Linked DNA regions of Homo sapiens: region 1 is linked to region 2. A link means that fine-mapping ties the variant in region 2 to the expression of a gene that starts in the linked region. Tissue or cell type: hypothalamus. Region 2 holds a variant in brackets; the other region holds the start of a gene. All regions are shown on one strand. Distances are between the middles of the regions.

Region 1 (5,144 bases), 310 kb before region 2:
AGACTCCATCTCTGGAAAAAAAAAAAAAAAATTAGAGCCTGTGGTCCCAGCTACTTGAGAGGCTTGAGGTGGGAGGATTGCTTGAGCCCGGGAGTTTGAGGATGCAGTGAGGCATGTTGAGCCACTGCACTCCAGCCTGGGCAACAGAGCACGATCCTGTCTCAAATATAAAATAATTTCTAAATAAACTTTCTTGTTCAAGCTCAGGGTCTGAGTTGTGCACTGCCTATGATCCACTCCACAGAAGTTCTGATTTCTTCTCTGTGCAATGGTTCTGCCGGCCTTTCTGCCGCCCAGAGGTCCTGGTGAGTGGGCATCAGAGACTCCTTAGGGCTCTGTGGAGGCTCAGGGAGGAGCTTTCGCTTCCCTCCTGATGCTGGTGCCTCCAGAGCTAGACAGGAAGATGGAAGCTGGGTGGCCCGAGCAGGGGTGGGGGCTTGGCTGGCCCTCCTGTCAGCTTGAGCTGGCTTGAGCCCAGGCAGGGCCCTGACAGCCTGGGCAGGCTCAGAGGGAGGGAGGTGGGAACCAAGAGACCCGGGGAGGGCTCCCGGGGCCAAGACCCAGGTCCCTGCCCTGCACATCTGCCAAGGGACTTCCTCAGAAGCTGCTGATGTTAGGCTTTGGCTTCCTGCTGTGGACTGAGGGGATGAACTCCGACGGGAGGACATTCAGGCCTTGGAGGAAATGAGAGCTTGGCTGACAGGAGGGCCTGGACTCACGAAGACACTTGGACACCCACAAGCACAGAGACATGGGTGTGTGACAACTGACCAAGGGGCATGCAGGTATGTATGCGTGGTGCACACAGACACCCTGGGCACAGCCCACTGGCACCAGCGTCAACCCCTGCGTGGTGGGCTGCATCCCACCCTTCAGGCAGGCCCTGTGGGGCAGGTTTCAGGGAGGAAGGAGGCTGAGTGGGCAGAGTCTGAGGACGCGGCCACCATCGCTCCCTGGCACTACATCTGTGTCCGGGATCTAGGAGGCAGTCCTCCATCACTGAGCCCCAAGATGACTGTCACAGCTTGGTCTAAAGCAGGGGCCGGGCCTGAGCCCTGGCCCCTGCCCTGGAGGAGCTCACAGAGCCCCCAGCTGGGGCATATCTGGTTTCCGGGGGCAGGGGCGATACCCAGAGGAGGAAGAAGGGATTCTGAGAGAGCCCAACAGGCTCCGAGCCTCAGGCTGGAGCTGAGCTTGGGGCAGCAAGGAAGGACCAGGTGCGAGGGCAGAACCATGCGGCCCGACCCCTGCAGCACGGCCTGTGGCCTCCCCCAGCTCCTGCCCGTGCTTCTGGGTCAGTCTGGACTTTGCCACTTCTGACCAAAAGCCACCGCAAACCCACTCAAGCCAAAAGAGGAAGTGACCGTTAGGCCCAACTGGGAAGGCTGGCGGCCAGGGGCACTCCAGGCAGGGCGAGGGGGGCGGCCGGGGGCGCTCCAGGCGGGGCGAGGGAGACACCCAGAACTCCAGGCAGGAGTCCTCGGGTGCCACCTTTCCTCTCCACCTGGCCCTGCGTGGGCTCTGTCCTCAGGGTGGCCCGCCGTAGTCCCCCTCCCCACTCTGAGTTTCCTGTCCCAAAGTCCTAAGGAAGTTTCCAGAACTACATCTCACCATCTTGAGTCAGCCTTGGCTCAGTGTCCATCTCACAGGCCTGGAAGGGGCAGGAGTCAGCACTGTCCAGACCACAGGGCCTGAGTGTGGGGAGGGCAGCCGTCTAGGAAGGTGGTGGAGGGTTGTTACCTTGAGGCAAGAGGGCTGCGGGGCAGAAAGACACAGCAGGTGACTGTTGTGGGAGGCCCAAGAGAGGCCTGGGAGAGGGATGGCCCACAAGGGCTGACCCTCCCGCCACCCAGGGGGCCTTGGACAGGTTTCCTCCTGGCAGGGTGGCCCTTGTGCATGGAACCCCTACAACGACTAAGGCTGGCAGGCATGAGGTTTCCTGAAGGAGAAAGAGCTTGTGGGGCCCAGTGTGGCTGGGGGGGCGCTGGGACTCCATTCTGAAGCCAAAGGCACTGGGAAGGGCTTCCGCAGAGGAGGGTTTGGCAGGGGTTGCCAGGAACAGCCTGGATGGGGACAGGGAACAGATAAGGTGGGTGGAGGAGTTAGCCGGGAGCCTGGGGCTGGCTCCAGCATGATGTGGGGGTCTGCAAGGCCCTGGAGAAAGTGGGGTGGTGCAGCAGGGGGCACACCCACAGCTGGAGCTGACCCAGATGGACAGCTTGGGCTCTGCCACGCGGGACTAGGCAAGGAAGGGGCACGAACAAGCAGGAAGTGGTGAGGCGGTCTCCAGCTAGCTGCTCTCCCCTGCCCAGACTTTGGTTTCCTCCCTGCTGGCTTGGCCTGGCTCCCTGGCTCTGTGTGGTATGGTCACACCCCCGTGCACCCCCTCCACTGAGATGGGGCGGGGAGAGCACCGAGGCTGCTCTTCCTCTCCTGGGCCGTCCTCTGAGCAGCAGACGGGGCTAAGCGTTCCCCAGCTCGCCTTCACACACAGCCCGTGCCACCACACCGACGGTACCATGAAGGACGAGGTAGCTCTACTGGCTGCTGTCACCCTCCTGGGAGTCCTGCTGCAAGGTGGGCTGGTTCCTATCTAGGAAGAGGGTGGGCCTTAGATCCCTACAGCTTGCCCTCTGCCCCCTAGGCCCAGGTGGAGGGCAGAGGTGGGGACTCCAGCCCAGGCCCAAGCTGGAAGAGGGTGGGGACTTTCAGGGAACTGGGGGGCACCTGGCTGTGAGAGCTGTAGGACTTGGGGGTGGCAAGGGTGCCAGGACAAATGGTAGGATAGCCATGGGCTTGGGGAAGCTGATCTCTGCTCTTTCCAGCTGTCCCCTCTCTGGGCGTCCCAGCAAGCGGCCCCCATTCCCTGGCTCTGCTTCAAAGGCACCTCCATACTGGGACCACGTGGAGCAGGGTAGAGGTGGGACTCCTTCCTCCAGCCCCCTAAAAAGAGCCTGCTTAATGCCTTTCTCAGACTGGCCCTAAAGGACACATTCCTTGGCCAGATATCCTTGCCACCTAAGAGACACCACTACTCCACAGTGTGTGGGCTAGGATAAGGCACAGCCTGGGGAGGGGGCTCTGAAGGGGCTGAACAGACAGGCCAGCCTGACCTCCAGCTGCTCCTGCACTGAGCTGGATGGCCACCCTGTGACACCCATCTGCAGAGGGCCCAGAACCAAAGGTGCCAGGGCTGCAGGACTCAGGGGGAGATGGTCCGACGGGAGGTCTGGGGAGGGAGCGCACAGCCAGCACTGGTCTGTGTGTGGTCTGGCCTGGCCTCACCTGACCAAGAGAAGGGCTCCTGCCCACAGAGAAACTTTAGGGCCAGCCCACCCTCTGCAACTACCCCAGCCCTGGGGTCCTGGGGTTAGGCTAGGAGAGTCCCAGCTGCAACCTCCTGGGAGCAGGAGAGAAGGTGTCTGTCAGATTTAGGCCTGGGACCGGAATGCAGGAACAGAGAAACTGAGGTTTGGAGGCACAGGGACGCAGGCTTTAGTGATCCCGGCCTGAGGCAGGGTCAGAGGGCCCTGCTGGTGGGCGCTGGTAGGTGGGTGACCAGGGACTGTTAGCTACAGGGAGTGTGCTTCCTTGCACCTGGGAGGATGCAGCCAGCTCTGCCCTCAGACTCCCGAGGCACTTCCTGGCCAGGGACCTGAAAGCTGCATTTGCCTGTGTTTTGAGAGTGAAATGATTCAGAAACAAGGACTCAAGTGGTCTCTCTCGCGGAGCAGGTGTCCCTGTGCCTGAATCACTCACCCTCCCCCATACACTCACAGGTTGGGACAGGGCCTCTCTGCGCCCCAGGCTTCAGCCCTGCCCTCCTCGCTGAATGTCAGGGACACAGGGCAGGCCAGGGATGGGTGAGACGAGAGGTCTCCTCGGGCGGGGAGGGGGCGGGGTTCCGCCTTAGGGAGGAGAGGACACGGCCAAGTGAAGGGCCAGATTGCAGGATCCCTCCCACTCCCATCTCTGGGGCTTCGGGTGTCCAGACCTGACTCCCGCTCCCCCTCCTCCCCCAGCCTACTTCTCCCTGCAGGTGATCTCGGCGCGCAGGGCCTTCCGCGTGTCGCCGCCGCTCACCACCGGCCCACCCGAGTTCGAGCGCGTCTACCGAGCCCAGTGAGGCGCGGCGGGAGGGCGCGGGGCGGGGAGCGAGCCCCAGGCGGGTCCGGGTCGCAGGACCATCCCGGCCGGCGCGCTCATCCCACCCGCCCACCGCAGGGTGAACTGCAGCGAGTACTTCCCGCTGTTCCTCGCCACGCTCTGGGTCGCCGGCATCTTCTTTCATGAAGGTCGGGGTGTGGGGCAGGGGCGCACGCGCTGGACCCCCGGGACCCGCGCAGGGCGCTCACCAGGCCCGTGCGTACCTCTCGCAGGGGCGGCGGCCCTGTGCGGCCTGGTCTACCTGTTCGCGCGCCTCCGCTACTTCCAGGGCTACGCGCGCTCCGCGCAGCTCAGGTGAGGGCCGGGCGGGGAGCGGGGCGGGGCCGGGGAAAGATCGCGGGCGGGCGGGGCTCCTGGGGAGCGGGACCGAAGCTGGGGGCGGGCGACGGGCCGGAGCCCAGCGCCTTTGGGGATTCGGTGGGCGAGCCCTGGCGGCGGCCAGAGGAAGTCCCCGTGGGGCCAGGGTTGCGGCGGGGAAGAAGCGGGCCTCCTCGCGCCACCTCCCCGCTGACCGCCGCCCGCAGGCTGGCACCGCTGTACGCGAGCGCGCGCGCCCTCTGGCTGCTGGTGGCGCTGGCTGCGCTCGGCCTGCTCGCCCACTTCCTCCCGGCCGCGCTGCGCGCCGCGCTCCTCGGACGGCTCCGGACGCTGCTGCCGTGGGCCTGAGACCAAGGCCCCCGGGCCGACGGAGCCGGGAAAGAAGAGCCGGAGCCTCCAGCTGCCCCGGGGAGGGGCGCTCGCTTCCGCATCCTAGTCTCTATCATTAAAGTTCTAGTGACCGAGACCCGGGCTGCGTTCTCTGGGTCCGCGGGGGTGGCGCACCGCGGGCTACGGAGCCTGGAGGGGCCCAGCCCGAGTCCGGGCAGCCCGGGGCGGGCTTCCTAGTGGCGGCGTGAGAGTGGCTGCGAAGGAACGAGCCCTCCCCCTGGGGCGGGACTGGATCCGGTCTTCACCTCCTACCCCACTCCCTACTCAGC
Region 2 (5,144 bases):
GTCTCCTGTGCCCGTATGGCCACTGTGGGGGGGGGGGGGGCGGGCAGCAGGCCACAGGGTCGGCATTTGCAAAATAGTGAGGCACTCCCTGGCCTCTGCCCACTGGGCCACTGAGGCAGGGCTGTGGACGGCTTCTGCGGGCTCCAGCTCTTCCTCGTCCCTCAGCTCAGCGCTTTCATGTCTTCCCCAAAATAGAAGATCTGCAGATTTAAGCATGTCGGGAGCGGTGAGAGCCTGGAGCTCCCCACCCCAGTTAGACTGCTCTCCAGCACAGCCACTTTCTCAGTGCGCTGAGGAGAGCCAGCCTCCTGCCCCAGAGGGGTGTTCTGCAAATCCCTGGGGCTCAGCCCTCGAAGTCCATTGCTATGGATCATTTCCGACCGCCACTTGGACGTGTTAACACGCCGAGCAAGAAGGAGGTGGGGTGTGTGTCCCACTGTCTGGCATACAAATATAGACTGGGAGTCCCTGTCCCTGGGACATGCATCTTGACTGCACACAGAGGCAGCCACCAGCCGTGGGGGAGTCACAGGCTCAGCCTCCTCTCCTCACCCCTATGACTGTGGCTTGATCCCCACTGTGGGCTGCTGAGGCTCCCAGGAGGCTGGTGAGCCGGGTATCTCTGAAGCCCCTCGGCCCTGTCCTGGTCCCAAGCAGTCCCCGGGTCCCACCTCGGCGCGAAGACTCACCTTAGAGCTTTCCATCCCAAGCAGCCCCCAGGCCCCACCTTGGCAGGAAGACTCACCTTAGAGCTTTCCATCTTTCTTTTTCTGTTTGGTTCTCTGGGCTCTCACTTTCGTAAGAAGCCAAATAAAGACCTAGACAGAAAATGAAGTGAAATTTCACAATTATGGTTGATGATAATAACCTGTTCTACACCTGCTATATCTGCGTGGGTCTCTTTCTGGGTTCTCTATTCTGTCCCATTGATCCATGTGTCCATCCCTCCCCTAATACTGTGCTGTCTTAACGACAGTAGTTCTATAACATTTGCGTGAGGGCTTTTGCTTTTGTGTGAAACTCACTTCAAATGATGTATAAATACATGAGTCTTTATTTCTCTGGAATAACTAACTGCCCAAGAATGCAATGGCTGGGCCATATCATAGTGGCATATTTGGAATAAGAAACTCTTTATCTAGCCCTATATTCTGAGGGTTATCTCTTGCTTTTCCCTGCTAAAAGCTGTATAGGTTTACATTTTACATTTTAGTCTGTGATCCATGCTGAGCTAATTATTTGTATAAGGTGTGAGGCTTGGGCTGGGGTTCATGTTTTGGTCTGTGGATGTCCGGATGCTCCGGCACTGTTTGTTGGAGGGCTAGCTTTCCTCCATTGGGTTTTGTTTTGTTTTGTTTTGTTTTTGTCAAAAATCACCTGGTATATTTGCGTGGGTCTCTTTCTGGGTTCTCTATTCTGTCCCATTGATTCATGCGTCCATCCCTCCCCTAATACTGTGCTGTCTTAACGACCATAGCGCTATCATATCAGCCTTAACATCAAGCAGACTCATTCCTCCCACGAATCCTTTTCAAGATTGTTTTAGCAATTCTAGTTCCTTTGACTTCCGATACAAATTTTAGGAGAATCTCGTCTCTATCTTACAAAGAGTCTTGCTGGGATTTGGGTAGGAATTGCATTAAACCTGTACTTAAATTCTGGGAGGAGAATTAATACCTTTGCTATGCAGTCTTTGCGTTCGAGAACATCCTATGTCTCCATTTATCTACATCTTTCTTGATTTCTTTCATCAGCATTAACTTTTTTTTGAGACAGAAGTCTCGCTCTGTCGCCCAGGCTGGAGTGCAGTGGCGCGATCTCGGCTCACTGCAAGCTCTGCCTCCCGGGTTCACACCATTCTCCTGCCTCACCCTCCCGAGTGGCTGGGACTACAGGTACCCACCACCACGCCCGGCTAATGTTTTGTATTTTTAGTAGAGATGGGGTTTCAC[C/T]GTGTTAGCCAGGATGGTCTCGATCTCCTGACCTTGTGATCCGCCCGCCTCGGCCTCCCAGAGTGCTGAGATTACAGGCGTGAGCCACCGCACCCGGCACATCAGCATTAACTTTTAGCGTACACGTCCTGTGCGTGTTCTGTTCCATTTCCACCTACATATTTCATGTGAGTGACTGTAAATGGTATTATCATTTTAGTTTCAGCGTGCACATGTTTATTGCTCATACGTAGAAACATGGTTGATTTTTGCATGTGTGTCTTGTATCCTGCAACCTTGCTGAACTCCCTTATTAGTTCTAGGGGTTTTTGTAGATTCTTTGGGATTTTTTTTCCTCATCATCTGCAAATAGGGACAGTGTTAATTTTTCTTTCTGATTTGTGTGTTACTTCCTGTTCTTGCCTTATCGCACTAACTAGTTCTTCCATTACTATGATGACTAAGAGTGGGGAAGAGTGAACATCCTTTCATTGTTATTGGTCTTACGAGGAAAGCATTAAATCTTCTGCTGTTAAATATAATGTTTGCAGAAGCGTTTCTGTGGATGCAACTTGTCATGCTGATAAATTCCCTTCTATTACTAGTTTCTGAGAGTTTTTACCATAAATGCGTGTAGAAATTTGTCAAATGCCTTTTCTGCATTGATTAATATAATCATGTGTCTTTTCTTCTTTAGCTGTTTAGTATAGTGAATCACACTGATTGAATTTCAAATATTGAACAGCTTTGCATCCTTGGAATGAACCCACTTAGTCATGACGTATAATTATTTTTACATATTGCTGAACTCTATTTGCTTATTTTGTTAAGGATTCTTGTGTCTATATTCATGAGGGATATTGGCCTGTATTTTCTTTTTTTGGTACTGTCTTTGGTTTTAGTATCAGGGTAATACTGGTGCCAGGGTTTGAATGTTTGTGCCCTGAAAAATTCATGTTGAAACATAATCCCGAATGCAACAGTGTTAACTAACAGGTGGGGTCTGGAGGAGGCGATTAGGCCATGAGGTTCCACCCTCATGGATGGGATTAGTGCCCTTATGAAAGGGCTGGAGGGAGCCAGTCTGGCCCCTTTTTGCCCATCTGCCAAATGAGGACACAGCATTTGCCCCTTCTGCCATGCGAGGACACAGCAAGAAGGCTCCACCTTAGAAGCAGAGAGCAGCCCTCACCAGACACAGAATCTGCCTTGATCTTGGATTTCTGGCCTCTGAAACTGTAGATATATATATATAAACTCAGTGGTAAGAAAATGTCTGTTGTTTATGAATTACCCAGTCTAAGGTATTTTGTTACGGCAGCTCAAACTGACTAAGACAACTGGCTTCATCAGGAGGCTCCCTCCTCTGCCACTTTCTGGAAGAGATTGTGGAGAATTGGTGTTAATTCTTTAAGCATTTGGTAGAAGTCTCCAGTGTAACCATTTGAGCCTGTAGACTTCATTTTTGGGAGTTTTAAAATTATAAATTCAATTTATTTAATAGTCACAGGGCTATTCAAATTATCTATTTTATGTCAAGTTGTGGTAATTTGTGCTTTTTAAGGAATTAGTTCATTTCATTTAAATTGTTAAATTCGTGTGTGTGGAGTTGTTTGTCGTATTCCCTTATTATCTTTTCAATGTCTGTAGTCGTTAGTGATATCCTGTTTTACTCCTGGTACAGTAGTCCCCTATTATCTGTGGGGGATACATTCTAAGTCCCCTGGTGGCTGCCTGAAACTGCAGATAGTACGGAATCCTGTATATACTTGTCTTGGATCCCTTTTCCATCTTAACTAAGCACTCATCAGGCACTTCTGCAGTTTGAGATGCAACAGCAAAACTAGCAAGAATTTATTTTTCTTTCTTCAGAATTTCATGGATAAGTTTGTTCTTACTGTAGATCTTAGTAATCTCAGCATACAATTTTTTCCCTTGAGAACTTTCACCTCATCATTTAACGGAAGCACTTTACAGCTTCCCTTTGCCATATCTGAACTGCCTGCATCACTGCTCAGGTACTTTGCCAGGCGCGGTGGCTCACGCCTGTCATCCCAGCACTTTGGGAGGCGGAGGTGGGCAGATCACGAGGTCAGGAGATGGAGACCATCCTGGCTAACACGGTGAAACCCCGTCTCTACTAAAAATACAAAAAATTAGCCAAGTGTGGTGGCGGGCGCCTGTAGTCCCAGCTACTCGGGAGGCTGAGGCAGGAGAATGGTGTGAACCCGGGAGGCGGAGGTTGCAGTGAGCCGCGACTGCGCCACTGCACTCCATCCTGGGTGACAGAGCAAGACTCTGTCTCAAAAAAAAAAAAAGAAGTAAAATAGGCTGGGCGCGGTGGCTCACACCTGTAATCCTAGCACTTTGGGAGGCTGAGGCTGGTGGATCACTTGAGGTCAGGAGTTCGAGACCAGCCTGACCAACATGGTGAAACCCCGTCTCTACTAAAAATACAAAAATTAGCTGGGCGTGGTGGCTCACGCCTGTAATCCCAGTGACTTGGGTGGCTGAGGGAGGAGAATCGCTTGAACCTGGGAGGCAGAGGCTGCAGTGAGCCGAGATCGTGCCACTGCACTCCAGCCTGGGTGACAGAGCGAGACTCTGTCTCAAAAAAAAAAAGAAGTAAAATGAGGGTTACCTGGACACAAGCACAGTGACACTGACAGTTGATCTGATAGCTGAGGTGGCCACTAAGTGACTGATAGGCAGCATAAACACAGCACAAATGCCGGGCAAAGGGATGAATCATGTCCCAGGAGGAACCCAGTGGGATGACGTGTGATTTCATCACACTACTCAGAATGGTGCACAATTCAAAACTTATGAATTATTTCTGGAATTTTCCATTTAGTATGTTCAGACCACGGTTGACTGAGGGTAACTACAGATAAGGGGGGACTACTGTATCAGTAATTTGTGTCTTTTCCTTTTCTTTGTCAAGAGGTTCTTTGCTAGATGGCAGCAATTTTATTGTTCTTTTCAAAGAACCAGCCCTTTGATTAACTTTATTGTTTTTCTGCTTACGGGTTCATTGATTTCTGCTCTTATTTCCATCCTGCTGCTGGCTTTGAGTTTATTTTGCTCCTCTTTTTCTAGATTCTTGATGTAGGAACTTAGATTATTGATTTGACACTTCCCCTTTTTTCTAATGTATGCATTTGGTGCTATAAGATTTCCTCTGAGTCCTGCTTTAGCTGTCCTACAAATTTG

The links. PIP is the estimated chance that this variant, and not a neighbour inherited with it, causes the effect.
Region 1: LTC4S starts here. The variant in region 2 is fine-mapped to the expression of LTC4S in hypothalamus (GTEx, PIP 0.96).

What each region holds. Positions count from the first base shown.
Region 1 is chr5:179,791,562-179,796,705 of GRCh38, forward strand. LTC4S (leukotriene C4 synthase) reads left to right here and starts at 2,425. Exons shown (of 5, transcript NM_145867.2): 1 at 2,425-2,577; 2 at 4,023-4,122; 3 at 4,225-4,295; 4 at 4,380-4,461; 5 at 4,692-5,086. The coding sequence starts at 2,520. The coding sequence ends at 4,833. RefSeq lists enhancers at 1,613-2,240, 1,815-1,894, 1,915-2,064, 3,548-4,220 and silencers at 2,415-2,484, 4,030-4,739, 4,780-4,829, 4,850-5,009, 4,854-5,065.
Region 2 is chr5:180,101,326-180,106,469 of GRCh38, forward strand. It overlaps RASGEF1C (RasGEF domain family member 1C), which reads right to left. Exons shown (of 14, transcript NM_175062.4): 13 at 746-818; 14 at 1-200. The coding sequence ends at 176. Among named protein-coding and RNA genes, the nearest start is that of RNF130, 32 kb to the left of the region's middle. The variant C/T (reference allele first, on the strand shown) is at 1,953.